Regions from separate parts of the Homo sapiens genome. Here region 1 is linked to region 2. The links come from fine-mapping of genetic effects on gene expression. A gene starts in region 2. The other region holds a variant in brackets. All regions are shown on one strand. Distances are from middle to middle.

Evidence for each region. PIP is the estimated chance that this variant, and not a neighbour inherited with it, causes the effect.
Region 1: its variant is fine-mapped to the expression of ABHD14B in whole blood (TOPMed, PIP 0.98).

Annotation. Positions count from the first base shown.
Region 1 is chr3:51,095,283-51,098,189 of GRCh38, reverse strand. The region is part of intron 9 of DOCK3 (dedicator of cytokinesis 3); the gene reads right to left. Among named protein-coding and RNA genes, the nearest start is that of MANF, 290 kb to the left of the region's middle. The variant G/A (reference allele first, on the strand shown) is at 1,313.
Region 2 is chr3:51,972,480-51,975,386 of GRCh38, reverse strand. It overlaps ABHD14B (abhydrolase domain containing 14B), which reads left to right and starts at 1,338. Exons shown (of 4, transcript NM_001146314.2): 1 at 1,338-1,422. ABHD14A-ACY1 (ABHD14A-ACY1 readthrough) reads right to left here and starts at 323. Exons shown (of 17, transcript NM_001316331.2): 1 at 183-323. It overlaps ABHD14A (abhydrolase domain containing 14A), which reads right to left and starts at 323. Exons shown (of 5, transcript NM_015407.5): 1 at 183-323. The coding sequence starts at 251. RefSeq lists silencers at 20-399, 1,230-1,399, 1,620-1,769 and enhancers at 1,000-1,179, 1,213-2,149.

The sequences.
Region 1 (2,907 bases), 880 kb after region 2:
AGCTGCTCGGGAGGCTGAGGCAGGAGAACAGCTTGAAACCGGAAGGCGGATGTTACAGTGAGCTGAGATCGCATCACTGCACTCCAGTCTGGGCAAAAGAGCAAAACTCCGATCGGTGGCTGGCAAGATGGTCAAATAGGAACAGATCTGGTCTGCAGCTCCCAGCGAGATCAACGCAGAAGGCAGATGATTTCTGCATTTCCAATTGAGGTACCCAGCTCATCTCATTGGGGCTGGTTAGACAGTGGGTATAGCCCATGGAGGGTGAGCTGAAGCAGGGTTGGGCATTGGCTCACCAGGGAAGCACAAGGAGTCAGGGAACTCCCTCCCCTAGCCAAGGAAAGCCGTGAGGGACTGTGCCATGAGGGACAGTGCACTCTGGCCCAGATACTACGCTTTCCCCACGGTCTTCGCAACTCATAGACCAGGAGATTCCCTCAGGTGCCTACGCCACCAGGGCCCTGGATTTCAAGCACAAAACTAGGCGGCCGTTTGGGCAGACACCAAGCTAGCTGCAGGAGTTTTATTTTCATACCCCAGTGGCGCCTGGAGCGCCAGTGAGGTGAGACAGAACCGTTCACTCTCCTGGAAAGGGGACTGAAGCCAGGGAGCCAAGTGGTCTAGCTCAGCAGATCCCACCCCCATGGAGCCCTGGAAGCTAAGATTCACAGACTTGAAATTCTCGCTACCAGCAGAGCACTCTGAATTCAACCTGGGATGCTGGAGCTTGGTAAGGGGAGGGCCAGCCACCATTACTGAGGCTTGAGTAGACAGTTTTCCTGTCACAATGTAAACAAAGCCACCTGGAAGTTCGAACTGGGTGGAGCCCACTGCGCTCCTCAAAGCCTCTGTAGCCAGACTGCCTCTCTAGATTCCTCCACTCTGGGAAGGGCATCTATGAAAGAAACTCAGCAACCCCAGTCAGGGCCTTACAGAACAAACTCCCATCTCCCTGGGACAGAGCACCTGGGGGAAGGGGTGGCTGTGGGCACAGCTTCAGCAGACTTAAATGCTCCTGCCTGTGAATCTGAAGACAGCAACGGATCTCCCAACACAGCGCTTGAGCTCTGCTGAGGGACAGACTGTCTCCTCAAGTGGGTCCCTGATCCCTGTGCCTCCTGACTGGGAGACACCTCCCAGCAGGGGTCGACAGACACCTCATACAGGAGAGCTCTGGCTGGCATCTGGTGGGTGCCCCTCTGGGACGAAGCTTCCAGAGGAAGGAACATTGCTGTTCTGCAGCTTCCGCTGGTGATACCCAGGCAAACAGGGTCTAGAAAGGACCTCCTGCAAACTCCAGCAGACCTGGAAA[G/A]CTAACAAACAGAAAGAAATAGCATCAACGTCAACAAAAAGGATGTCCACACAGAAACCCTATCCGGAGGTCACCAACATCAAAGATCAAAGGTAGATAAATCCACGAAGATGAGGAAAACCCAGTGCAAAAAGGCTGAAAATTCCAAAAACCGGAACGCCTCTTCTCCAAAGGATCACAACTCCTCACCAGCAAGGCAACAAAACTGGATAGAGAATGAGTTTGGTGAATTGACAGAAGTAGGCTTCAGAAGGTGGGTAATAACAAACTCCTCCAAGCTAAAGGAGCATGTTCTAACCCAATGCAAGGAAGCTAAGAACCTTGAAAAAGATTAGAGGAATTGCTAACTACAATAACCAGTTTAGAGAAGAACATAAATGACCTGATGGGGCAGAAAAACACAGCACAGCTTCACTTCGTGAAGCATACACAAGTATCAATAGCCGAATTGATCAAGTGGAAGAAAGGATATCAGAGACTGAAGATCAACTTAATGAAATAAAGTGTGAAGAAAAGATTAGAGAAAAAAAAAAGAAAAGAAAAGGAATGAACAAAAGCCTCCAAGAAATATGGGACTATGTGAAAAAACCAAACCTATGTTTGATTGGTGTACCTGAAAGTGACGGGGAGAATGGAACCAAGTTGGAAAACACTCTTCAGGATATTATGCAGGAGAACTTCCCCAACCTAGTAAGAAAGGCCAACATTCAAATTCAGGAAATATAGAGAACACCACAAAGATACTCCTTGAGAAGAGCAACCCCAAGACACAAGAGCAACCCCAAGACACATAATCGTCAGATTCACCAAGGTTGAGATGAAGAAAAAAATGTTAAAGGCAACCAGAGGAAAAGGTCGGGTTACCCACAAAGGGAAGCCCATCAGACTAACAGTGGATCTCTCTGCAGAAGCTTTACAAGCCAGAGAGCGTGGGGGCCAATAGTCAACATTCTTTTTTTTTTTTTTTTGCCAGAGAGCATGGGGGCCAATAGTCAACATTCTTTTTTTTTTTTTTTTTTTTTTTTTGCTAACCTTATTTATGTCACTTAAGGATTGACATTTGAAAAGAATGAGAGAATGAAGGGTGTTAGTTTAATGAGCATGAAATGTTTTATATGCTGTTATAAGAATTGAGAGAGCTTTTGAGTATTACCTTTCTCCACTAAAAGTTGGGTAAGATGGGGTGAAAAGCTTTAAAACAAATAACAGGTAAAATTAGATAAAGTAATCTGTATAACCAGAAGATAAAGATCAAATGTAAATGTTAAAAGGGCTGCATTTTGCACTAGACAATGCAAATTCCACCATCAAGTTGGTATTAAGAAACTGGGAGATTCTGGATTCTGGTGTTGTCAGTTCCAGGCTTTTTTAATACCCCAAGGAGGGCTGTGGTTGAAGCTCTAGTCAACATTCTTAAAGAATTTTCAACCCAGAATTTTATATCCAGCCACACTAAGCTTCATAAGCAAAAGAGAAATAAAATCCTTTACAGACAAGCAATTGCTGAGAGATTTTGTCACCACCAAGCCTGCCTTACAAGGGCTCCTGAAGGAAGCACTAAATATGGAAAGGAAAAACCAGTATCAGCCACTGCA
Region 2 (2,907 bases):
ACCCCCAAGAACATATGCAGACCCTGCGCGCGCACACACATTACACGCGCGCACATGCACATTCGCGGCCCCAGCGTCTGCTTCTTCCGCGGGACTCTGCCCCGGGGCGCCGGGGCAAGGGGCGGGGTAAAGACGGCCCTCCCCTGGGCCACCGGCCGGCCTCCCTCCCCCGGGAGACTCACCGGGCCCAACGGGATGAGCGGGCGGGCCCCGCCCAGGCGGAACCAGCAGCCGCACAGCGCCCCGACCATGGCTGCCTCCGCAGCTCCGCGGGCCGCTCCGGCTCTAGGCGGCCAGGAGCGCGGCCATCTCGGCGCGCCTGCGCACTCCGCAGCCGCGGGCCTGCAACCCAGTTACCGAGTCGTCTGCGTGGAGGGGGTGCTGGGGGCAGAGCCCCAGCGCTCTCTGGCCCGCTCCCCGCCCAGATTTTCGGAACTGTTTTTGGCTTGAGAGCCGGCGGAGAGCCATGTGGCTTCTTCTCAGTGGAACATCTCCACCCTGGCTCAGTTCTCTGGCCTGTATAATGGAGTTAAGGATAAAACCCACCGCACAGGGTTGTCCTAGGTTCTTAAGGACGGGTCAAGCCTCAGAACAGTGTCCGGAGCAGAGGCCTCGTTGTGTAAATGCCAGATATTGTTATGCAGCAGCTCCAGGTCTTGGCCGACCCACTTTCCTGACTCCTACCCACTCCTCCCCACCCCCTCCCCGACGCACACCCACGGTCAGAGCCTGGGCTGGCCCTGGGCTCGTTCACGTCTACTCATGGCGCCTGCCCTGGTTGGCGATGTGTTACCAACGTCTGGCCTGTCCCAGCCCAAGGCTCCGCGTGGCGACCAGGCCCAGCACTGGGAGGCTGTGCAGAGCGTGGCGTTTACTGCTTATTGCTACTCTGCAGAGGTTGGCAACATCTGACCCGCTCTACTGGCAGGAAACAGGCTCGGGGGCATTGGGAAAACGATCAAGGCCACTTGGCTGGACACTGGCGGAGCCTCGCACTCAAACCTGTCGGGCCTCAACTCCGTGCCAGGCCAACAAGTTGCCCTGGGCAGTTCAAGCTGGGGATAAGGGGGATGGGGAGCAGGAAGACAGCAGCAAGGATGCGATCCCGAAGGAACTTTCCTCCTCAGACTGCTCCATGTCCATGTGGGGCAGGTCGCTGAAGAGTTCGAAACCGTGCTCAGCACCGCGTTTGGGGCATGTGAGACCGAGAGGCTTTGGGAAACTGACGCCGCTGTGAGAACGAGTTTAGCGGAGTCTATGGACGCTGCGAGCTTGTGGCCACAAGAGGGCGCCCCGGAGCACGGCCCAGTCCCCGCCCCCGCTGGATGGGGCCCGGCCTCTTCCCAGCGTTCCTCCTCCGGCCCCAGGTCACCGCCAGCACGCGCCTGCTTCCCGTCTGCGCGAGTCCACGCAGCTCCCCAGGTACCCGCCCTGCACTCCTGACCCTTTCTTCTCTCCAGTCAAAATCCAACCCCACCTACCCCAAGTCTTCCTTTCTCGGATCCCTGGGTCCCCTCCTTGGGAGTTGCCACCATTCCCTCCCGGTGCTCCCTTCCAGAGCTAGCGAGCCAGAACCGTAGTCCGCGGAAGCAACCTGACCGCGAGGTCAACGCGTTGGGCCCCAGGTGGCAGCGCGTTGAGCACCCCGCATCCCCGGCGGGTCGCCTTTCCCACTGGGCGCTTCGGTTTCCGCCTCTAGAAAATGGGCTTTCCGGTGTGGAAGCGCGCCTGTGGTTCCAGCTACTGGGGGTGAGCCGGGAGGATCACTTGAGCCCAGGAAGGTCAAGGCTGCAGTGATCCATGATTGCGCCACTGCACTCCAGCCTGGACGACAGAGCGAGACATCTTCTCTTAAAAAAAAAAAAAAGAAAAAAAAAAAAACCGAAGAAAATGGGCTTTTAGTTCCGGCGCGGTGGCTCACGCCTGTAATCCCAGCACTTTGGGAGGCCAAGGTGGGTGGATCACTTGAGGTCAGGAGTTCCGGACCAGCTCGGCCAACATGATGAAACCCCGTTTCTACTAAAAATATAAAAATTAGGCCGTGCACGGTGGCTCACGCCTGTAATCCCAGCACTTTGGGAGGCTGAGGCGGGCGGATCACGAGGTCAGGAGATCGAGACCACCCTGGCTAACACGGCGAAACCCCGTCTGTACTAAAAAAAAAAAAACAAAAAATTAGCCGGGCGTGGTGGCGCGTGCCTGTAGTCCCAGCTACCCGGGAGGCTGAGGCAGGAGAATGGCGTGAACCCGGGAGGCGGAGCTTGCAGTGAGCGGAGATGTGCCATTGCACTCCAGCCTGGGCGACAGAGCGAGACTCCGTCTCAAAAAAAAAAAAAAAAAAATTAGCCAGGCATGGTGACGCACGCCTGTAAACCCAGCTACTCGGGAGGCTGAGGCAGGAGAATCGCTTGAACCCAGGAGGTGGAGGTTGCAGTGAGCCGAGATCATGCCACTGCACTCCATTCTGGGCAACAAGAGTGAAACTCTGTCCCAAAATAAATAAATAGAATAAAATAAAATAAAATGGGCTTTTTACCCCAATTTGGGCTCCCTCTGGCCTGCATTGACAACTCATGACCTGTAACTTACCGTTGATTGAGCACTGAGCCCTTACTACGTGCTAGGCATGGTACATGCATGGCCTTATTTAATCCTATCAACCACCTATGAGCTAGTACTATTGAATTATCCCCATTTATAGAAAAGGATAATAACGATGAGAATAAGAACAGTAATTGTAATGGAGCCCCACCACATATTGAGGTTTTACAGCAGGCACCCCCACTGATAATTTTTCTGTTTTTTGTTTTTTTGAGATGGAGTTTTTCTCTTGTTGCCCAGTCTGGAGTGCAATGGCGCGTTCTCGGCTCACTGCAACCTCTGCCTCCTGGGTGCAAGCAATTCTAC